Linked DNA regions of Homo sapiens: all the other regions are linked to region 3. Evidence: fine-mapped expression QTL. A gene starts in region 3. Each other region holds a variant in brackets. All regions are shown on one strand. Distances are between the middles of the regions.

Region 1 (4,726 bases), 32 kb before region 3:
GGGGCAATGACTCTCCATCACTAGTGCTGTGGTGGCACCTGTGCTCCCACATCCTGATATCCTACCCCTACGGCAATCCTTTGAGAAGCACCTGAAAACACCAGTGACCTAGCTTTATTAGATTCCTCGAAGGGAAGGTACCTGGCATGCAGCCTCAGCTCCTACCAAGGAGAGGAGAGGTTGAAGACTCTCCCAGTCTCCATTCACTCCTTTGCTTTGATACCCGTTAGGCCTGCTTTGCCTCCTTAATAGACTCCTGGAATGGGAAGGGGTGGGGGTGGGGAGCGACTGGAGAACTCTTTTCCTAGGATGACTGGAGCCAGGAAGTCAGTCTGGAAACTTCCCCACCCCCTGGTGGTGCACAGCACACAAGATGGCCTGTGTTCCGCTCAGGGGTGGGACTTTCAATTTACAGCCTAGGTGAAGGGAGATGAGTTGGGGCAACAGCGATTCTGTTCATTGGAACAGACTGGGTGGTAACTGCAGGCCACTGCAGTTGACCTGTTGGCATTCGAGGTCTGACGACCTTCAGGTAAATGCTCTTATGATCAGTGGACCAAAGGAGCAACGGTGGAGGGTGAGGAACAGCACACTTTACCAATGAAAGTCGTGACCAGGCCACGTTAGTTTAGTGGTAAAAATAATAACATTAAAGAAAATGTTTACAACAGGAATAGAAAATGACAGAACCCTACTGCTTTAACTCAAGTGTATCACGATCTCTGCCTTCATCCACTTGAGACTTAAAACTCAGTGTCTGCTATTTTTACTTAACATTATCCCAAGCAATAGTAACATGAAAGTTATGACCAGGAGGGAAGCAGGGTCGCACCTGTGCAGGGTCCTTGTCTGCGGACCACCCCTCCTACAAGCTTCTGGGTAATAGAGGTAAGGGGGCTCCTGTGGTGGGTGCCAGTGCTGGGACCTTAACTTGTGTATCTGGGCTATAGCCCTGGACTTGGCTAGGCTGGGCTGTGTGAAAATTCCAAGAATTCTGTTGGTAGAAAATGCCCACCCTGTCCTTACAGGAACAGCACAAGGCTAGGCTTGTCTACCTCCCACCAGGACCTCGAAGGAACATGACCCAGGGGCTGAAGGATGGTGTTGAAGGACCGAGTTTTACTCAGATCCTTCTCAGCCCTGCCTTCCTGAAGTTTCTGTATCCACTACACTGGAAGCTTTCTGAAAAAAATGCCTGGAACCTGTCCATTGTTACCCCAGCCCAGGGCCCAGCCAAAGAACTTAACAAATAACCGCCAAGGAAATCCTCACCTAAAATGGCTGCGATGCATTACTGCCCCCGCCTCTGGCTTACAGTATCACTTCTGCATCTGAAACCAGGAGGGGGCAGTCTGGGTCCACGACGAGACATTTCCTTCTAGAGAAAATCACACCTGCAAAGACCCTCTCCAGAGCCACCGCCCACCTCCGCGCAGCCATCCATTCCCTGCGAAGATGCTTTGGGCTGAAAATGGTTGGGAGGAGGGGGATGGAAGTCGCCTACGTTATTTTGGAATTGACCAGGGCCTCTGAGTCCTTCAAATTCAACAATTTACCACAGGCCCGCGTGCGGTGGCTCACGCCTCTAATCCCAGCACTTTGGGAGGCCAAGACAAGTGAACATCTGAGGTCATGAGTTCAAGACCAGCCTGGCCAATATAGTGAAACCCCATCTCTACTAAAAATAGATGAATTCGGCCGGGCGCGGTGGCTCACGCCTGTAATCCCAGCACTTTGGGAGGCCAAGGCGGGCGGATCACGAGGTCAGGAGATCGAGACCATCCTGGCTAACACGGAGAAACCCCATCTCTACTAAAAATACAAAAAATTAGCCGGGCGTGGTGGCGGGCGCCTGTAGTCCCAGCTACTGGGGAGGCTGAGGCAGGAGAATGGCGTGAACCCAGGAGGTGGAGCTTGCAGTGAGTCGAGATCGTGCCACTGCACTCCAGCCTGTGTGACAGTGAGACTCCGTCTCAGAAAAAAAAAATATATATATATGAATTAGATGGACATGGTGGCACGTGCCTATTAATTCCAGTTACTCAGGAGGCTGATGCACGAGAATCGCTTGAACCCAGGAGGCAGAGGCTGCAGTGAGCCAAGATTGTGCCACTGCACTGTCAGCCTGGGCGACAGAGTTTTTGAGACAGTCTCAAAAACAAAAACAACAAAAAAACCCACTACCACAGTGCCTAGAGAACAATATGTGTTTAATAATATTTAAATAATGGTTGTATAAAATTGAAGCAGCAAGAAACCCAAAGGAGAATAGCTCTAGGGGAGGGAGGTGGATGAGTATGCATGGGGGAGAGGCTCTTCTGTGACCAGGTTGGGTCTGGAGCCCTCCCCACTGTCCAGAACACCTCCAAGCCCCTACATCTTTTTCCATATACCAACGCCTTGGAGATATAATGCAGAAGTGAAGTGAGCAGGCTGAGGATTAGGGCAGGTGTCTGGAATATGGTCAGGAGTGGGAGGGGAGTGACATAGCTCACAGGCAAGGCAGAACAGCACAAAGGCTATAGGTTTCATTCCCAGCCCTCAACTTAAAAGACCTCAGGGGCAGACACTGACTCCAGCCTGGCTGTGCCCTTACCCTAACGCCATTCACACTTTTTTTTTTAAACACAGGTAATCCATGTTTATTATAGAAAAATGCCACATTACTCTTTATTGAATGCGAGCGCCAGCACCGGCCCCTTTCTCTCCAAGCACAGGGGCACGCAGGCAAGGGGCACGAAGGCAAGGGGCTCCGTC[C/T]CCTGGCCAGGATGCAGTGGAAGCCTGGCTCCACTACCATTCACCTACAGCCAGCACCCTCCTCGGTGCCTGGGGCTCAGGTCTGTTCAAACTCCTGCTCACAGAAGCCTACATTGAGGGGTTGGGCCTGGACACCTCGCCTGCAAGAGGACATGAAGAAATGGCAAGATAAGCCCCTCAGAAGGGGCCCCAGCAACACTTTTCACACCAGTCAACAGTCTCTCCTTCCCCATTTCGGTGACTCTCAAACTGTCACTGTACACCAAATGCACCTGGGAATCTCAATTCCAGAGATTCTCACCTGGGGTGGGGCAAAGTATTGGCAAGAATCTGCAAGCTGAACAGGTGCCTCAGGTGATTCTGATACAGGTCTTGGAGATCCAGAAACGTTGGCGACATCTATTTATATCCTGCCCATCTCTGTACCCTAACCCCAAATAACTCAATCCCTTTAGAATATAGATGGATGTCTGAAAGGCAGCCAATGCTCTTGGTCTACTTAGCCCTCTGTTCCTGACTCTAAAATGCTGTAAATATGGTGGCACTGGGGGACTTAGGTGCTGTCCTGTCCATGAACATGGATGCGAAATCCTGTCCTTGGGTCTCAGTCTATAACCTGACCAATCTCCTTAGGGGACCTCTAGGCATGCTTCCCTTATCATCCAAGTAAGCAACATGCTTAGAGAACCAGCTGGAAGTTACCCAGTGAATGACATAATTGAGGCTTAGACACCATCATGCTTGACTCTCAGCCCAGGACTCTGCTCTGCACTAGGCTATGTCCCCCAAGTACTCAAGACCTAGCCAACGAAGGAATCAGGGAAATGACTATCTTACACAGGCACATCCCTGACAGAGGCAAAGGTGTCATGACATCCTGTAAGTCAGCCTGGTTCAAATCCTGCTTCTTAGTGACTTTGGGCAAGGTCCTGAACTCTGTGCTTCAGTGTCTATCTCTAAAATGCACCTGTCTCATGGGGCTGTGGTGAAGACTAAATGAGACAATATTTGTAACAAACTTAGCACAGTGTTTGCCACAAAATACAGTTGTCCCTCAGTATCCACAGGGGATTTGTTTCAGGACCCCCGTGGATACCAAAATCCAAGGATGCTCAAGTCCCTTATATAAAAATGACATAGTATTTGCATATAACCAATGTACAACTTCCCATATACTTGAAATGATCTTAGATTACTTATACCTAATACAATATAAATGCTATGTAAATAGTTGTTATACAGTATTTTTTATTTGTACCATTTTTTGTTGTATTTTTTTTTTCCTGAATACTTTTTATCGCAGTTGGTTGAATCCGTGGATGAGGGCTGACTATAAGCCTCTGTAAGTGTTAGCTATTGTTAATTATTGTCTTCCTCTCTCTAAGGGGTTCCCCAGCCCTGGATCTGGCCTGCTCCGCCTTGCGAAGGCCCCACAGCTTGCTTACCTCAGCAATTCACAGCGGAAGTGTGACAAACGTTCATAGGCAAATGTCAGGTCAGATGTCAACTTGTTGCTCCACAGCCTTTCGGCAACAGCCCCTGCTCTGGGCCTGGAGGAAAAGGGGCATGTGCCAGATTGGGCCCTGTATTCCCTGCAAAGGTGCTGGACATCCACAGGCTGCTACCTCTTGTCTAGGCACCCTGGACTCACTCAGGCCAAAGGAAGTGATCAATACCTTGTTATGAGCCACAGCCAGGTTGGATGGCTCCCAGAGAGTTCTACGGCTCAGCTCCACCTTCATTAAAATGTGGGTAGCAATCCCACTCTCTTCCTCTCTCAAAGATATGGGAATAAGAATAAACCTTAAAGCCATCATTAACCACAATGACAGTGGCAGCAGCAGAGGTCCTTAAAATGTAAACTTTGCACACCCAACCATACTTGGTAAGGCTGCAGTGAAAACAGCAGAGGGAAGCCTTATTACAGGAATCATGGATGCTTGTGCTGGGTCTTGAGCAACTCACCTAT
Region 2 (4,671 bases), 100 kb before region 3:
AATCCATGTAAAGTAACCAGCAGAGTACTTGGGACTAGGAAGTAGTTCATACATGGAAGCTGTAATTGTGGTTATTGTGGTTATTAACCCTAGACATGGCCAGATCTCCTTCATCCTTATTAGTCTTGGGGCTTCCACGTGACCCTCTTTTCCATCAACACTAATGGGAAAAGGCTTATCTTAGACCTACTCTGTTTCCTCACTCCCTCTTTGTAGCTGGACACAGTACACACAAAGAAGGCTTTGGCCCTGAATGATATAAACACGTCATGTCTATCCCTCCTAAGCTGGCCTCAGAAGTTTCCCAGTTAACTTTTTGTTGTTGGTTGATTTACATTTGCACATTCTCAGCCTCTCCTTTCTAACTCCTTCCCCTTTTGATGTCCCCCTCTGCTCACCTTGCCACTCAGCCTGGGCCACAACACCGTCTCGGTGTGAGTTTGTTACATCTACTGCTTATAGTAACTGAAAAAAGTGAGGGATCAATATAACCTCGGTTTCAGAGTGCGGAAGTTCAGAGTGGTAGGGGAAGGAGTCAGGCCTGCTCTCTAAAACAACTCACCATCAAGGGCCCCGTAATAGCTTTTGAGAACCAAGTATGTATGGGAGTGTTTGAACATAAGCACTGTGCCCATGAGTGACAAGTCCAACTCCAGTATTCAATAACCTTTAGGATTCCCCCTTTCCAGCATACCACCACTAGCTCTTCTATTCATCATGAATCTCAGCCACCTCATAGTTTACCAGTATCTTCCAGGCTTCACCTCTTTTCCTACCCAGTCCACATCCTTGGTCAGTCATTTTAATCACATCTTTGTTAATATGCTTGCACTTACTCTGTAAAAATCACACTCCTGGGTCATGCCAGCTATCTACCTTCTCTACTCTCCCATCCTAAACCAGGATAAAGGAAGTCATCCAATCCTGCACACTTAAGCTTGTGAGTGGACACCATTTAGGTTAGTCTAGCCCATGAACCCTATTCTGTGGGAATTATCGTTTCCACACCCACACTATGGATCCACAGGCCCCAGGGCCATGTTCGTCTTGTGTGACCTCTAGCACTTTAGCTGCAGTTTATTGAACTGTGAGTGGATTCCTGGTCTAAGCTGTGTTAAACAGATGTTCTCCTGAAAATCTGGGATTAGAGCTGACAGATTATGATTCTAACTGGACTGGTTTCTTAAGCAAAAGAGACATAGACTTAGGAGCTATGGTACATCTACCTCCCACCTACTATGATGAATGAGAAAAGGAAAAAGACCATCTGGGGACACAGAATGAAGCATGGAGAGGCAGAGACCAGAAATGGTGAGACTACTCTCTGCTTTCTGGCAGCTTCCCAGGCACCCCTCCCTTCCTTCCTTCTTTTTTTTTTTTTTTTTTTTTTGAGACAGGGTCTCACTGTGTTACTCAGGCTGGAGTACAGTGGTGTGATCATAGCTTACTGCAGCCTCCAAGGCTTAAGCATGCACTAACATATCTGGCTAATTAATTTTTTTTTGCAGAGATGGGGTCTCCCTATGTTGCCCAGGCTGATCTTGAACTCCTGGGCCCAAGCAGTCCTCCATCTTGTCCTCCCAAAGTACTGGGATTACAGGTGTGAGCCACTATACCCTGCCCAAGGCACTTTCTGAGGCCCTCTGATCTTGAGGGACTAGGAGTCAGTTTTTATCTAGAATAAATGGCTTAAGCTAACTTAATGTGCACTCAGTACAGAGCTCCTACAAATTCATTGTCTCCTCAGCAGAGTCCTCAGTGTACCCAGCAACCCTTCCCATGTCAGCCTCTCCCACCATCCCCCATTCTGCTTCACAGAAAAAATAAAGGCTCTGGGTGCCAGGTACTTGGGTGGCTGAGGCAGGAGGATCTCTGGAGCCCAGGAGTTCAAGGCTACAGTGAACTGTGGTTATGCCACTGCACTCCAGCCTCAGCAATGGAGCGAGACTCCCCATCTCTTTAAAAATAAATAAATAAATAAAAGGCCACGGGGGAACTGCCTCAATTTTCTGTCCCCTCCAAACATTTGAATCTCTCCCATCCTTTCTGTTTCAGAAGTGGAGAGGGCTCTCTTCAAATACAAAGTTAGTCCTTTCACTGTGATCTGTATTTCATTCCTTTTTGCCTCCTTGGGAAATTTGCTCCTT[A/T]CCTCTCTCTTTCATTTATATTCAACTTTTTCCTCTCCCCTACTCGTTGATCTCAGTATATAAGCTTGATCAACTAGCCCAACCGTAAAAAGAAAATCCAATTTGAATCCTATATGCCATGCTACTGATTTTTCTTGCCTTTAACCAAACTTCTAGGAGTAGCCTATACTCCCCCTCTCCACTTTCTTGTCTTCAGTTGTTCCTTAAATCTGGTGTCATCTGACCTCTCCCCAAAATTTCTACTGAAAATACTTTCACCAAAGTGACACATGACTTACAAATGGACAAATCCATTGGGAATTTTCAGGCTTCATTTATATGACCACACAGTGTCATTTGGCATTGTCAATCATCTTGCCCCTGCAGTTGACTGCATGGTGTCATTTGGCATTGTCAATCATCTTGCCCCTGCAGTTGACTGCATGGTGTCATTTGGCATTGTCAATCATCTTGCCCCTGCAGTTGACTGCATGGTGTCATTTGGCATTGTCAATCATCTTGCCCCTGCAGTTGACTGCATGGTGTCATTTGGCATTGTCAATCATCTTGCCCCTGCAGTTGACTGCATGGTGTCATTTGGCATTGTTGATCATCCTGCCCCTGCAACCCTTTCCTCTGTTGGCTCTTATGGGCTACACTCTTCCAGTTTCTTGCTACACCTCATATGACTCCTTCACAGTATCCTTATTATACTCCCTTTCCTTCATTCCCTACTTAAGTAGAAAAGCAGTTCAGCCCACATCCATTTCTCCTATTACTCTTCCCTGTGGCCTCCATGGCCACTTGAAGGAGATCTTGATAATTTGGGGTTGCCCAGAAACAGAATCTCCTTCTTATGTTACAAGTTTTAGAAGTAAGCAGAGCCTATCTTTCATGACAGACACTAAAAAGGTTGAATCTTTGCTTTCCCAGCTCTCTAGCTAAGACAGAGGCATGTGACCTTGGCCTGGCCAAGCATCTTCCAGAAATGTAGTTTCTGGAGTGACTCAGAGAAATAGAATCATAGAGAATTCATGCCAGTGGCAATGGTGACAGGAGAGCAGGGTCAGCTTTACCCCATGCCCAGGGACTTTCATGGTGTGGGTACTGGTAGTGGTGACATCCCATGTCCAATAATGATGACAGCAGCAGTGGTCTTGTGGAGCTGGTTCTGGCATCTGAATTTGGCCTGTGCTGTGGTGGACTGGCCTCTCATTGTTCCTGCCTATTTTCCAAGCTTGGGTCTTTTGCCTGGCAATCCCGTGACCCACCTAGTGCCCTTTCAACAAAAGTCTCATTTAAATCCACCTGAGTGACACACAGTTATAGACTGGAACTCCCAAATCTATATTTCCATCCTGTACTTCTTCTTCTTTTTTTTTTTTTTTTGACGGAGTCTCGCTCTGTTGCCAGGCTGGAGTGTGGTGGCGTGATCTTGGCTCACTGCAACCTCTGCCTCCCAGGTTCAAGCGATTCTCCTGCCTCAGCCTCCTGAGTAGCTGAGACTACAGATGCACGCCACCACGCCTGGCTAATTTTTGTATTTTTAGTAGAGACGGGGTTTCACCACATTGGCCAGGATGGTCTCAATCTCTTGACCTTGTGATCCACCCACCTCGGCCTCCCAAAGTGCTGGGATTACAGGCGTGAGCCACCGCGCCTGGCTTCCATCCTGTACTTCTTGAGTTTCAAGTTAACTTTGGTCAAGTTGTCTTTTGGACAGCTCCACTTGGATGTCACATAGGCAAACATCTTCTCACTGTATTTCTTTCATGTTCCTAACTTAGTAAATCTCACCTATGACTTATTCAGACTGAACCCTGAGAAGAAAGCATCTTAGACTTCTCCCATCCTTATTTAAATGGAACCAATTTTACCTCATAAACTCTAAATTTTACATCTTAATACATCTTCTTCTTCTTTTTCTTTCTTTCCAAACTCTGGCCTCCTGCCCTCTAGCTGCCTAAAAGCACAGAGACTCAGAAGGCAGAACAGGCCACACGCCTGGGTCTGGCTTTTCCCAAGGGATATCTTAGGTGCTGAGCAGAAAATGCAAGAAACTAAAAAGCCTGTGGAATGAGCCTCAGCCTCCTGGGGAGTAGTAGACAGGGTCTCAATATGTGGCCCAGGCTGGTCTCAAACTCCTGGCCTAAAGTTATCCTCCCACCTCGACCTCCCAAAGTGCTAGGATTACAAGTGCGAGCAAATTAATACATCTTAAATCAATCCCTCCTTTATATTCCTATTCCTCCCTACCAGAACTATCGCATTCGCCTCCTAATAGACTCCTTATCCAGTATCTACTCCTGCAATCTATTCTCCACTTAGCTGCTTAGGGGATCTTTCTAAAACTCAAATCTGATCATGTCACTCCTCTATTAAAACCCTTCAATAGGCTGGGCCCAGTGGCTCATGCTTGTAATCCTAACACTTTGGGAGGCCAAGGCGGGTGGATCACTTGAGGTTAGGCTTCGAGACCAGCCTGGCCAACATGGTGAAACCCCGTCTCTACTAAAAATACAAAAATTAGCCGGGCATGGTGGCA
Region 3 (4,726 bases):
TCTATTTGTTTCCCATGCTATTGCTTCATCCTTGTTTCTGCAGAACTAGGATTTTAGCTCAAAGTCACCTAAAAGCCTCCACAGGAAACTACATTCCAAAGGGAAGACTCCATGGGAAGAGCAATAGAGAAAGAAGTTACTTTTAAGTCTTTGGTAATGTTCACCCAACCCAGTTTTCATTTTCTCTCAATGGACAAGAACCCTCAACTAATAAAGCTAATGAACTTACAGGAAGGTAATATATGGAAATAAACATCTTATTGAATTTATCTGGCTCTAAATCTCTTTTGTTAGGGAATTTATAGTATTCCATTATCTTACAATCTCTCCATTTCTATCTACTTGATTAAACTATGGTGCTATAGCAATGGAGGTGAAGGCCTAATTTAGAAGTATAGGAATTAGGTATGGCGCGGTGGCTCATGCCTGTAATCTCAGCACTTTGGGAGGCTGAGGTGGGTGGATCACTTGAGGCCAGGAGTTTGAGACCAGCCTGGCCAACATGGTGAAACCCCATCTCTACTAAAAATACAAAAATTAGCTGGGCGTGGTGGCAAGCACGTGTAGTCCCACCTACTCGGGAGGCTGAGGCAGGAGAATCGCTTGAACCCAGGAGGCGGAGGCTGCAGTGAGCCAAGATCGTATCACTGCACTCAGCCTCAGTGTAGGCTGAGTGATAAAGCGAGACTCCGTCTCAAAAAAAAAAAAAAAAAGGAAAGGAATTATTCTCATGTATACAATAGTAGGAAACAACCTATAAAGCTTTTGAGAATCTTATAATTCACTGTGTACCTCCCTCTGTTTCATATTTTCGCAATTGAACTATAGAGCCTAGGCCTAGGTCTTAAGACTTTTCTTGTAACCTTCAGAGTGCCCAGCACTGGGATTGACATATACCAGTTAGACGGATTTTTTTTTCCATAAACCAGGCTCAAACTCTTCTAAACCAAAATCAACATATTCTGAGTGCCAATCTTGGGTAAGGCACTCTATTATTTGTCATGAAGGATTCAGAGGAAAATGTGATCTACCACACTCAACAGCAGGCCTCTTATCCTCTCCAGCTTAATGCATTTTACCAGTTAAGGACTACCCTGATGCTGAGATTGTGTTTCTTTCCCCAAATCAAATGTCACTCTCTAAGGGTCATCTGTATAATTAAATGCTTTTAATTCTATATATCAAATGATAACTTTTGTGAAAGTAATTTAAACACACTTGAAACATCATATAAAATATTACTACAAGACTTAACCGTAAATGTGGCTCCCACCCCCATAACATCTATACAATATAACCAAAGAGCTAGATTCCAGATTATCAAGAAACTTCTAAATTTTGAACCCATGCAGCAGAATTGTATTCCTTTACATTGTTGGCTCGACTTACAAATGTGCTGTGGAATAATTATCCTCAAATACAATTTTCAGTACTGATTACATAGCTGCCTAAAAGAAAACTGTTAGCCCCTTCCATTTTATGTGAAACCAATGTCTAAAGCGCTCTTGACTCTTCAACCCCACATTTTCCCCACCCTCATCCCTCCTCAATCCCCAGCCCCCACTCATCACATCCACTAGACCTGAACTTTGAACTCAATCATAATTCTTTGTGCCTCTGCTCAAGCCCTTCTTCCTGCCTGGAATACCCTCTTTTCAGTCCCGGCTAATTACATCTACCATCCCATTCCAAGTGGCCGCTGGAAACTCACTTCCTTATGTTCTATGATTTCTTTCACAATTTACACTTTTTTTGTTTTGTTTTGTTTTGTTTGGGGGGGGGGGTTGTTTTTCTGAGAGGGAGTCTTGCTCTGTTGCCCAGGCTGGAGTGCAGTGGCGCGATCTCAGCTCACCACAACCTCCACCTCATGGGTTCAACCGATTCTCCTGCCTCAGCATCCCGAGTAGCTGGGACTACAGGCGCGCGCCGCCACGCCTGGCTAATTTTTTGTGTTTTTGGTAGAGACGGGGTTTCACTATGTTGGCCGGGCTGGTCTCGAACTCCTGACCTCGTGATCCGCCCGCCAAACATTCTATGTGCCAGAAACTTGTATGTAACTTTGCATAGTTCTTGTATTATGTCTCCCCAATTTTGAGTGTTTTCTCTGGTCTCTACTCAGCCCTTGCTCACAGTCTCACTAGGACCCTGGCTAGCTTGAACACGGTCAGAAGGATCACCTTAGATTTCTGCTGGCACAGTATTTTCCATAAATTAATCTCCTGATTGAACCGTAGTCCTATAGTAGTTATCTTTGGATGAAAACCTAATGCAGCTCGAGGAGGAAGTGGAGTGCCTGTGATCAGAGGGCTGGACAAAAGCCCATAGGGCGTCTCTGGAGCCCTGGGGGAACTGTCCCCAGGCAGGCACTCTCAGGGCCCAGGAACAGGGCGGGACAAGTCCGACTCACCTGTGAGGTAAGGACGGGGCCAAGACCCGGAACCGAAAAGCAGGTCACGATAGCGCTGGAAGGCCTCGTCGAGGACTGAGCAGCCGGGCTGCGCGGCCGAGCTGACATCGTACTGGAATTGAAAGTTGTTCGGGTAAAGGACGTAGCGCTGGTCGGAGGTTTGGAAGTTCTGAGGCCAGGGCCAGAGGGCCGTCGCCCGTCCTGCGAACGCTGCCGCCAGCAGCAGCGAAAACCAAAGCCTGGAGCTTGTCATGGCCCGCTGGTCTCCCCTCTCGGAGGGGGCTGGCCACGTGAGACCCTGGTCAGGTGAGCGGCGCCCCCGTGACTTATCGGCGAATCACGTGACCAGAGGCGGCTCTGCGCCTGCGACCCCAGGAGGACCCACACCCTGCCCTTTCACTTCCGGCCTGGACCTGAGGCTCCTGCTACGTGCAGCGGATTGTGCCGGGCGTCGGCAACTGCTCGGCTCGCCAGACTGTTCACGGGCCCAGTAGAGCAGTAAATAACCGGCCACCCCTGCGGCCGTGCCGGCCGTGATGGAACTAGACAGCTCACCCGACTCGAGAAGAACGGGGTGGGGAGGCGAGGACGCAGGGCGACCTGGAGAAGAAAGTTTCCCAGATGGCTCTAGGGTGAATCTTGAATGTTGTGATGCAGCTCGCCAGGCCTACGGGGAGGTAAAGGACTTGCCAGGCTGAAGTAACTTCAGAAGCAGAAAAACGGAGGATTAAAACCACAAGTCGTTGTGATGTGAAATTTCGTGGGGCAAGAAAGGGCCGGAAGTAGGTAGTCTGCACGGCTCTGCTAGAGAGAGGATCACAAGATCACACAAATGTGATCTACTTATGACTGGAAAAAATGTGTACTTTCAGAGCCAGCTTGAGGCATTCCATTGCCTCCAATATGAGCTCTTCCCTTCAAGATTGACTATAAATCTCTTAGTTACAACTCACATCCCCTTTCCCCAGACAAAACCCCACATAGCCCGGTGTGTATTTACTGAAAGCAGTAAGATATTGCTGGGGCTTTGGGTGCAAGATGGAGAGTGCTCAGAGATAATGACAGGGGCCTGGTCCTGCAGGGCCTTACGTAGAAAGTCAAGGAATTTATTCTCTGAGCAATTGAAAATCATCCCGAAAGATCTGCATTTTAGAAATACCATGTTGAGTAGTTGCATAAGAAACCAGTTAGGAGGCCCCTTTTTATTGGAGGTAGAGAATAATGAGAGACTGAACTACAGAAGTGGGGAAGGAAGACAGCTGTAGATCCAAGAAATAGTATCCGGAAGAGAGGCTTGAGAAGTGATCAAGGAGAATTCCACAGTTATCAGAGACCCTGTCTTCCTTGTTCACCACTATATTACCAGAACATAATACAAATAATGCTATTGTTATTGGGTGGCATTATTTGGTTAGTAGGTACTTTTTAAAATTTTTAAATTTAATTTTAGTATTAAAATACATGTAAAGATCAGGAAAATGAACTTTTAAAAATAAAGGGCTTTCACTGGGCATGATAACACATCCCTGTAGTCCCAGCTACTCCCAGCTATTCAGGAGGCTGAGGCGGCAGGATCACTTGAACCAAGGAGTTCAAGTTTAGCCTGGGCAGTATAGTGAAACCCTTTCTCAAAAACAAATAAAGGGCTACTGAAATAATGATAATTTATATTCAGGTCGTAGGTACCTAATTACTAGTTACACATACATGGCTTTGATGGGAAATCAAAGAAACATTCTGACAATACAGAGATTCATCAAGCAATTTGTCTTTGAAAGTTGATTATTCAAAAACAGAGCTTGTAGCAAAAGAAGCAGAAATTAGATCCCACAGTCATCAAGTTTCAGATCCTAAGGCTTGCATTCTTACACCAATTTCTTCTTTGCTTAAATCTTAATTTTCATCAGCATTAATTAAGTGTCTGGGTACTCTGCCAGTCAGGAGAGATGTTACCAAAGGTACAGGATTTGAGAAGTATTGTCAGAAGAGCCAAGTTCATAATCAGGCCCACAGGATCAATAATTTGGGGGAGTGTTTAGAGCAGTTTCAAAGATGAGAGCAGTAGATCAAAGTAGAATTTCAGGACTGAGCACATGCCAAGGCACCCTTTTATGGATATTCAACCTGTACCAGAAGGGAGGAGTCATTTACTTAAAAGAGTTACACAAGATGAAAGAGCTAGATCCAAATAAAGACGCTATAAAAATTACTAATGGGGCTGAGCATGGTGGATTACAGGGATTCAGTTATTTAATTATTACTGAAAGAGCTCTTTTAGACTTAACCAGATTTTTAAACCAAATATTCTTATGCATACAT
Region 4 (4,585 bases), 20 kb before region 3:
TTTCCACTCACATCTCCTCTTCCATTTCTACTGGGGCTATCTCAAGCCACCAGGATCCTAAGGCAAAACAAGATTTTTCTAGGATTCTCAATATTGGGATCCAACCCCAGAGATGAAAAAGGAGCCCTTTTTGAGGGTCCACACTTACTGTGCCCTCAGCAGATTTCCAAACAAGCTGGCTAAAAGTCTCCAGACCTAGGAAGATGTAGAGAGGCAGAGTAAAGACTCAGGGAGTGGAAAAAGAGATGTCTCTATTTGGAAGGTTCTCAATGTAGCAGAGCATAACATTTGGGTACACAGGGAAAATGGATGTAGTGTAGGCTTGACGATTTTTAACACTGATGAAAAGGGGATATTAGGAAGCCACTATCCATCTTTACTTCTGTATTTCATTTTGGGAGATGTCAGAGTAAGGGTTTTAGTGCCCTTCCTTACAACATACTAACCTTCAAAACCCACATACCTCTTATCTATATTTCCTGTGCCTTCACAAGAATATTGAGAAGAGAGGCCAAGACATATACTCATGAGGACAGACACAGAGACAACTCAGCCTGCAAGAGTTGGACTTTTCATGGATAACCCCTATCAGGAGCTAAGAGAGCTGAGAAAAGGGGTCCCAGAATAAATTGTGAGAAAGTGATCATAAGCTTGGGTTTCCAAGGAGCCTGGGTTCATGGCTGGACCTAGAAGATAAAAAAAATCATCCACTCTTCCTCTTCAGAGTCTAAGAAGAGACCCAGCTATAGGGAGCTGAGGTGTGGTGGACAGCAACTGCCCCAGAAGGACTCCCCTAGTCCACTGACACTGTCTCCTAGAGTCTAGCAAGGCCCACACACAGGTATGTTGAACCCAGAGTATTGTATGTTCTCAACAGCTGGGGCCCCTCTTCTGGAAACCCTGCAGAAGCCCCATGAAAATTATCAGAGTCCCCAGTTTCAAAGTGAAAGAATCCATGAGACCTCAGCAGTCACTCAGCACCTGATTTGAGCAGACTGCTAGTGTACTGTTTTGGCTTCTCCCCACTCTGACTCTGACACCCAGCATTCTGGAGTTCCAGGTCCTCCCTTACCTCTAGCCTGACTCACCATCAGCACCTGCATGAAAGGTACAAGAGGGCAGGAAGGGGAGGCAGCATGCTGTTGCTCCAAGCATAGAAGTGGAGCAAGGGAATGAAGACAAACTAAAGCAAGGTGTGGAATTCCGAGAGAGTTTCCCACATCATTCACCAGCAGAGGGTTTACCAAAAGTGGGAGAGATATTTGGCTAAGTCTGTATCTAGGCACCAAATGCCTTCTCAGTAAACCCAGAAGAAGGGCAAGGGCCAATAGTTTAGCCAGTAAACTCATTTTCTCCAGAAATAATGTAGTTCTAAATATTTCACTACTATTTATCTTTTTTTTTGCATGTATCTATTTCTTTTGTTATAGTTTTCCTTTTAAAAAAACCTTTCCAATTACATGTCTTTAGCAAGAGCTGGACAGACAGTGTCTGTGGTAGCATCATTCCCCCTGCCCCCAGCTACCTGTCCCCTGCTGGCACCTAGAACATCAGCCC[A/G]CAGACTCTCCTACTGCTTCCCAGAGCCCCTGACTAGGGCAGCAGCAGTTGCTGATGCTGCACAGGGTAAAACCTGTCAACTTCCAGGGACAATTCCACAGAGACGGGAAAACACGCCAATTGTTCCCATAAAAAAAGCTTCCTGGCTGGGCGCGGTGGCACACACCTGTAATCCCAGAACTTTGGGAGGCCGAGATGGGTGGATCACTTGAACTCAGGAGTTCAAGACTGGCCTGGGCAATATGGTGAAATCCCATCTCTACTAAAAATACAAGAATTAGCTGGGCATGGTGGCAGGCACCTGTAATCCCAGCTACTTGGGAGGCTAAAGAGGGAAGATTGCTTGAGCCTAGGAGGCAGAGGTTGCAGTGAGCAGGGACTGGGCCACTGCACTCCACCAACACCAACCTTCCCACATCATCCTTTCTCTCTCTCTTTTAATCAGCCCCAATTTGTTACCTCGGAGAGCTCCCCAGACAGTCTCAGAGAGGAGTAAACACTGGTCATCATTTATGGTCAGGGTATCTGAAATGACAGAAATGAACTCATTTAGTTGGTTAAGGTTTTCTATTCTCAGATTATAGACCAGATATTCTATATAAATCACTGGACTAAAAAAAAAAAACAGTAAGACCATATATTTTAAAAAATCTTTCAATGAGGAGATGTCCCCAGAGCAAGACAGCTGTAGGATGGCCTGGTCTGGGGCCAGAGTGGGAGGGTGGTCACCACAGTGACTCTGTAGACCCTGGATGATGATGTACAGCAAGAGTCAGGCTGGAGTGGAGGTCTGTACAAAGCACCACCTACCTCATGGGTCAGTTTCCACAGCAGAAAGATGAAAGAAGTCTTCTCCTGGCAAAGGGAACAGGGATGCCTGCAGGGGTGAGTGCAGCACGCGATGCTCCCAATGCCTTTGTAATCACCCTCCTTTCCCCTTCCTCTATGCTTCAGCTACTTCCTCCAAGAATGTGAGGAAGGAGCCAAACTCAACTGTTCACTTTGGAGACTGAGAAGTCCCCAAATGCTGCTCAGGGAAGACAGGAGGCAGTCACTGGACTAATGACTTAACTTCATCTCAGTATAAGTGACCAGAACCCCTGCTTTCCCCAGTGTAGGGTCTATTAGAGAAAAGTAGCAAAGTATACACTTTCCTAAAATAGAAATGTATTCAGTACACCAGGTAGAAGTCCTGTGGGACTCAGTGAAGAGCCAGTGTGATGTTCCACAGCCAACCTTTAGCACTGGTTAAGTTTCTGCATAGGAAAAACTCATCTTCCATGGCTCTCAGCACTTGGTGACCCTCGGTCCCCAGGGTCAAGGGGGACTCCAGGCCGAGCATCAGCAGTTTAGGCCAGGCCATCCAGAGTTACAGCTTCAGACAAGTGTTTGCTCTTCTAAGACAGGGAACAGGATGGTACTTACAATTCTCCACTGACTCCAAAGTAGGAAGCTGGTTACATCCAGGTGTGACTACAGAGACAACCAACACATTCTTCTCCAGTGTATGCCGTTTCCCTAGGAAGACAGGGTAAGCTTGGTGCGGCCAACCTGCCATTAGAAGCAACAGGCAAAACCAAGACCCTAGCTCTAGTCCCTCAGCTCACACGCCTGTGGTAAAGGAAAGGGAGGACATGGCATTTACCCTTGGCATAGGCAGTGCCTGATCATCTGTTCAGCTGTCTCACTCTCGTTGTGCCCCTCTTCTCCTCAGTAGCTGCCCTGACCCATGTCTGAATGCTCTGGGTGACAGCTCTTCTTAACCAGGGCTCTATATTTCTGACTGCCCTTGGCCTGTACCAAACAAACAACTCCATGACCTCAACAACTGCTTCTGAATGAAAGGCAGCTCTAGAGCACTGCTACTCCAAGTATGGTCTGCAGATTAGCTGCCAATTTGCAAACTGTGTTACTGGCTGGTCACTATATAGAAAACTTATATGAAGCCTGAATGTAAATCAATTATGTCAGAGTAAACACACTGTCTAGTTCTAACATTTTTTCATACAAGATTTTCTTGATGAAGAGATCAGTCTTACATTCTGGTACATATGCTTCTTATCTCATTGAAGATTGGCATATTAAGTAGTACTGCTCTTGAGGGCTCCAGATGAAGGGTTTCCAGTTTTGCAAAAGCCTAGGAGCTAATGGAGCAGATGACAGAAGGATCAGGCAGAGGAGGCCTGAGATGATGCAACTGATACCTCAGAGAAGATCAGGGTCACCCACCCATCTTGCTTCCTTCCTTCCTCTTCCCAAACAGGTTCTCTATCCAAGGTAGATTTTACCCTAATAGTGGAGGGTTGAACCAACATAGTATCTAATATAGCTTTACAGACCCTTGTCTATGCAGAAAAAATGCCAAAGCCAAAATATGAATACACTGTCTCTTCTCACCCTCCTGCTGGTTCTTCCCTGTGATTTTCAGGGTGGCTCTGGTGTTATAGCCCCAAGCCTTAACTTAATGAACCCCTCTCTATTCTATTCTTTCCTGGAGCCATATTCATCCCACTGGCATCACAACATCCATGACTTCTTATGGCACTACAATGTCAGGGATAGGATGGCCTGGCAGAAGGCAATGAGAGAATTCAGAACCAAACTGGAATCTCAAATGTTACCCATCTCCAGGCAGAAGGAATCCAAGCGCTCAGATCATCTCACGGAAGCCTGCTCAGACCTCTTGAGCACTACCACATGGCTGTATCTCAGCTCTTTGGTCTGCCAAGAAGCAAGCCAATAAGGGGGCCTTTCCTACCATCATGAACAACACATTCTTTCCCTTACCAGTAAATACCCTGGATCCCCACACCAATACCTGCCTACATTCTGCAAAGAGGAGGGAATCTGAGGCAACTCTGGGCCAGGTCAATTCACAGCTCCATACTTGAACCCTAAAACTACATTGTTACAACACAAAAGGACAAGCAGACCTTCAAGGCAAAGACCACACTCAAGGCAGAATCTGCAGGGCCATCCAAGCAGACAGGCTACAAACCCATCTCCACAGGAGACTCTACAGGGAGAC
Region 5 (4,726 bases), 570 kb before region 3:
CATCCTGGCCAACACGGTGTAACCCTGTCTCTACTAAAAATACAAAAAAATAGCCAGGCGTGGTGGCAGGCGCCTGTAATCCCAGCTACTTGAGAGGCTGAGGCAGGAGAATTGCTTGAACCCGGGAGGTGGAGGTTACAGTGAGCAGAGATTGCACCATTGCACTCCAGCCTGGGCGACAGAGAGAGACTCTGTCTCAAAAAAAAAAAAAAAATCTCAACAGTTCCTATGGGAACATGGAAAACCCTCTGTAGGGGACACCGTATATTTTAATGCCAAGTACGTGATTCAGTAAAATAAATCCAGCATCCACTCCACTCAACATCTGTTTTCTGGGTGTTTGCGATATGTCAGGAGCTCTGACGCACATGAGCCAGTGTATCAGGACACAATGGGGTGATACTCCCAGGGGGCGGGGATGCCACCTCTGCGTCAGATAGTCTCCTGACTGTCGCTCAGCCCCTCTTTGGTGCTTTGATTTAAAAAAAAAAGTTGTGCATGAAACGCTATAGGGAACCGCTGGGGTTCTTTAGTAAGAGCTTAAATCCTCTGCCTGAAGATGCAAGTGCGTATTGGTGAAGTGTTTACTTTGCTACAATTCCAAAGAAGAAATTCTCAAGTCTCTTAGGCTACAAATTGGGGGATGGAACAGTGCAGAGCAGGCCAAACTTTTCTCATGGAGTAACACCTCCATCTTGTGGCCTTTCAGGGTATTCCAAGTGGATCCAACTACCTGCTATTTTGTGATTCTGGGTACAATAAATCAGATCTGAGAGAACTTGAGAGGTCCTCTGATTCGGTCCTCTGCCTTCACCCAGACGTGAAGCTCCACTATTAGCTCCATGATTTCCTCATAGTAACAGTCCAGAGAGGTGAAGAGACTTGGCCGAGCCCACCCAGCTAATACGCACGGTCTCATACCTGAGGCTCAATGCTACCCACTTGTCACTCTTTAGGAAGAGAAAAAAACTTCTTCAAACAAAATTTGACCAACTATGAAACAGATGAAAGCAGAGAGAGTCCCGGTAGAGACTGCAGAAGGACCCACCCTTCCCAGCACCTTCAGTCATCACGCCCTGGAAACCACTGTCTTGTGCCAGGGGGATGCTGCTTCTCTGGGTAATGGAACATCATTGTGGCAGCCTGGAAAGCCCCCTAGGACAATAGCATTCCCTTCCGAGTAGCTTATTGCTTCAATCAGTTTAGGTCCTGGCCAGGTAAATGCCTTTTATTAAAACACATTTTACACCTCTCATGGCAGAATAAACGGCCTCATAGGATAAGGGTGTGTGGCCCCGCGACTGCTGATGAGAAGTGAAGCCAGCTGGACTTCTGGGTCAGGTGGGGACTTGGAGAACTTTTTTGTCTTACAAGAGGATTGTAAAATGCCCCAATCAGCACACTATAAAATGGACCAATCAGTACTCTGTAAAATGGACCAATCAGCACACTGTAAAATGGACCAAATCAGTGCTCAGCAAAATGGACCAATCAGCAGCACATGGGCGGGGACAAATTAGGGAATAAAAGCTGGCCACCCCAGCCAGCCCTGGTAACCAGTGGGAGTCCAGTTTGGTGCAGTGGAGTCTTTGTTCATTCGCTTTTCACAGTAAATCTTGCTGCTGCTCACTCTTTGGGTCTGTGCCACCTTTAAGAGCTTTAACACTCACCGGGAAGGTCCGCAGCTTCATTCTTGAAGCCAGCGAGACAAAGAACCCACCGGAAAGAACCAACTCCGGGCCTCCGGACACCATTGGGACCTGCAATTGCTGGGACCCGGTCCCGGGAGGATGCCCGAGAGATGCCCACAGGGCCCCGGGCAGGGCAGAAAGCCGAAGCCGCCGCAGGCTGCCAGGACTAGGGCAAGCTTACGTCCACTCAGGCGGTCAACAAATAATTATCAGACTCCTTCTACGTGTCATGCCGTTGAACAAGATCGACAAGACCCTGGTCTCACAAAGCTTCTGTGCACATTGGAGGAGCCGGGTGACTGCAAAGAAAGGGCGTAAGATTGTTTCTGATAGGGCCTGGGATGTGAGGAGCGATGATAGAGTGCGTGCTCTCAGGAGAGACCTTGGAGCTGGTCTTGAA[G/A]TGTGAGGAGGAGTCGGTTGGAGAAAGAGGGAAAGAACAGGCCGAGCCGAGCCAGAACCGGGTATAGCCAGAAGCGCGAAGGAGAGAGCCAGCACTCGAGGTCAGAGGAAGCGCAAGGTGGCACCGGCCCCTCTCGCTGCGCTTTTTGTCCTTCCAGGAGGGGGCGCTGGTCCACCGACTGGCCCGGCAGTTCCCCAGTAGCACCGGGGGTTTCCTGCCGCGCGCGTCACCTGGTTCAGTTTAGAGCCTCCAAAGCTGCAAGGCAAGGCGAAGATGGGCAGTGGAGACAGAGTAGGGTGGGGAGGGTCCAAGCTGAGGAGCCTGTAGAGCGTCTAAAGTCATCAGTGGCACCTGTTGTTTCATTGTTCGTGTAGGCAGCTTGTATGTGTATACATATTTTAAACTTATTACCTAACATTTCAATCACAAAAGCAATTAGAGATAAAAGGTCCATGACACCCATGTACCCATCACCCATATCAATAACTATCACCTTCAGTCCTCAGTTCATCTACTCCCTCTTTTCATTCATTCGTTTATTAAAAAAAAACAACAACAAAAAAAAAAACAGTCTTTAAAAGCAAATCCAAGACATTGACTCACTTCTGTAAATACTTCAGAGTATATCTCTAGCAGGATTATTTTTTAATTAAACATATCCACAATACCATTGTCATAACAAACTAATAACCCCTTAATATATTCTAATTGTATATATTGTTTTTAAATATTTTATCTTCAAAATAATTCGACTTCCACAGAAGTTTTTGTTTTGTTTTTTGTTTGTTTGTTTCTGAGACAGAGTCTTGCTCTGTTGCCCAGGCTGGAGTGCAATGGCATGATTTTGGCTCACTGCAACCTCCGCCTCCTGGGTTAAAGTGATTCTCCTGCCTCAGCCTCCCGAGTAGCTGGGACTACAGGCGCCTGCTTATAGACAAGGATAATAATGACAATGCTTATCTGATTGTGTTGTCGTGAGGATTAAATGAGTTTACACATATAAACGCTTAGAACTGTGTCTGGCACATAAAATTTCTTAATAAATATTTTCCATTATTATTACAGCTCGTATTTTTTAAAAATTAACCCGTCTCTTTTAAAAAGACAAAAAAGCTTTATTTTATCTTGATTATAATTCTAGGCCAAGCACACTGACTTACGCCCTGTAATCCCAGCACTTTGGAGACCAACGCAGAAGGATCGCTTGAGCCCAGGGGTTCGAGACCAACCTGAGCAACATAGGGAGACCCCCATCTCTACAAAAAAATTAAAAATTAGCCGGGTGTGGTGGCACACACCTGTGGTCCCACCTACTCAGGAGGTTGAGGCAGAAGGATTGCTTGGGCCCAGAAGGTCGAGGCTGCAGTGAGCCATGATCACGCCACACTGCACCCCAGCCTGGGTGACAGACCGAAATCCTGTCTCAAAAAAAAAAAAAAGAAAAGAAAAGAAAATGAAAAAAGAATGCATACTCTGAGCCTGAGAGCCAGATAACTTTTTGGACACAGCCCTGACTGCTGTTCCTCCATGGTGTCCTCACCACCAGCATAAATGAACTGGTCAGTCAGCTAGTGTACCCTGGTGTGGTTGTGCCTGTTGTTAAACGTTTAAAAATAGTTCTATACTGGTTTTCAAATAGCTTCCTGCCCCAGCCTGCCCCCAGTGTTCTGGCCCCTCCCAGGGTCTCCAGATCTGCCCATGGCCCAGCAACTAAAGGGTTTACACCTGGTGCAGCAGGTGGACGGGCGGCCTCTGCACTGGGGGCTGCAGCTGTTCCAAGCAGCGGAGGCTCAGGCCAGAGCAGCCGCTAGAGATTTAGGTCCTCCTCTTGGGTGAAGAGGGAGAGAAAATGAAAGCATGGGGAGCTTCTCATTTTCACACATAAAGACTGAATTTCTTTATAAATATTTCCTATCATTATTAGTATAGGTAATATTGATTTCAAATTAGTCTCTTTTTTTAAAATACAAAGAACTGTATTTTATCCAGGTTAGAGCTGTAATACATGTGTATTATTAAACATTCAAATGAAACAGAAATATTTGCCTGTGGGGAGAATGTCTGCGGTGGCCTCTGGTGACAGCTCTGCAACAGAACTGAGACAGCCACCTCGCATGGTGCTTGGGAGTCAAGCCAAGCTAACCTGGAGGTCTTTCCTGTCAGTCATCTCGGGTACAGAGGAGGAAGAGGTGACCCAGGGTGGAGCAACAGATGGTGCATGTTCCAGACAGGCTGCTTTTTGTCTGCCTGTCCCAGGACAGGGCAGGGCCCCCGCCAGCCCTGCTTAGACCTTTAGAAGAGTTCAAGGGGAAAAAGACTTTACTAGTCAAGGGCTGGGAAAACTGTGCAGGGGAATATCTGATCATTTCTAAATGTTATCTTGAAAAGAAAAGAAAGAAGCTTTATTGAGAAACATTCCCGCTGGTGTCTGCCTCTCGGAGCCCTGCACCTTCCACTCCCTGCTCTAGAAAGAAAACCATTGATTCATTTAGGTCCTGCCAAGGAGACAAGCATCCCATGATCTTCAGCCAGAAATTCCCCTGGGCCACATGAAATCAAACTATCCATGTCTGTTTTGTAAGTGGCTTTGAAGTTGAGACATTGTGGACATATTTCCATGTAAATGAATATAGGA

Evidence for each region.
Region 1: its variant is fine-mapped to the expression of HEXA in whole blood (TOPMed, PIP 0.94).
Region 2: its variant is fine-mapped to the expression of HEXA in whole blood (TOPMed, PIP 0.94).
Region 4: its variant is fine-mapped to the expression of HEXA in lung (TOPMed, PIP above 0.99).
Region 5: its variant is fine-mapped to the expression of HEXA in putamen (GTEx, PIP 0.98).

Annotation. Positions count from the first base shown.
Region 1 is chr15:72,341,244-72,345,969 of GRCh38, forward strand. HEXA (hexosaminidase subunit alpha) reads right to left here. Exons shown (of 14, transcript NM_000520.6): 13 at 4,203-4,307; 14 at 1-2,897. The coding sequence ends at 2,834. Among named protein-coding and RNA genes, the nearest start is that of CELF6, 23 kb to the left of the region's middle. RefSeq lists an enhancer at 1,115-1,614. The variant C/T (reference allele first, on the strand shown) is at 2,758.
Region 2 is chr15:72,273,385-72,278,055 of GRCh38, forward strand. No RefSeq gene overlaps it. Among named protein-coding and RNA genes, the nearest start is that of PARP6, 3.2 kb to the left of the region's middle. The variant A/T (reference allele first, on the strand shown) is at 2,148.
Region 3 is chr15:72,373,313-72,378,038 of GRCh38, forward strand. HEXA (hexosaminidase subunit alpha) reads right to left here and starts at 2,702. Exons shown (of 14, transcript NM_000520.6): 1 at 2,408-2,702. The coding sequence starts at 2,660. It overlaps HEXA-AS1 (HEXA antisense RNA 1), which reads left to right and starts at 2,801. Exons shown (of 1, transcript NR_027262.1): 1 at 2,801-4,726. RefSeq lists enhancers at 1,938-2,493, 2,494-3,050, 2,942-3,081, 3,412-3,461.
Region 4 is chr15:72,353,543-72,358,127 of GRCh38, forward strand. HEXA (hexosaminidase subunit alpha) reads right to left here. Exons shown (of 14, transcript NM_000520.6): 2 at 2,983-3,075; 3 at 2,017-2,082; 4 at 149-195. Among named protein-coding and RNA genes, the nearest start is that of HEXA, 20 kb to the right of the region's middle. The variant A/G (reference allele first, on the strand shown) is at 1,558.
Region 5 is chr15:71,800,646-71,805,371 of GRCh38, forward strand. No RefSeq gene overlaps it. Among named protein-coding and RNA genes, the nearest start is that of NR2E3, 7.5 kb to the right of the region's middle. RefSeq lists a silencer at 2,105-2,399 and an enhancer at 4,120-4,189. The variant G/A (reference allele first, on the strand shown) is at 2,092.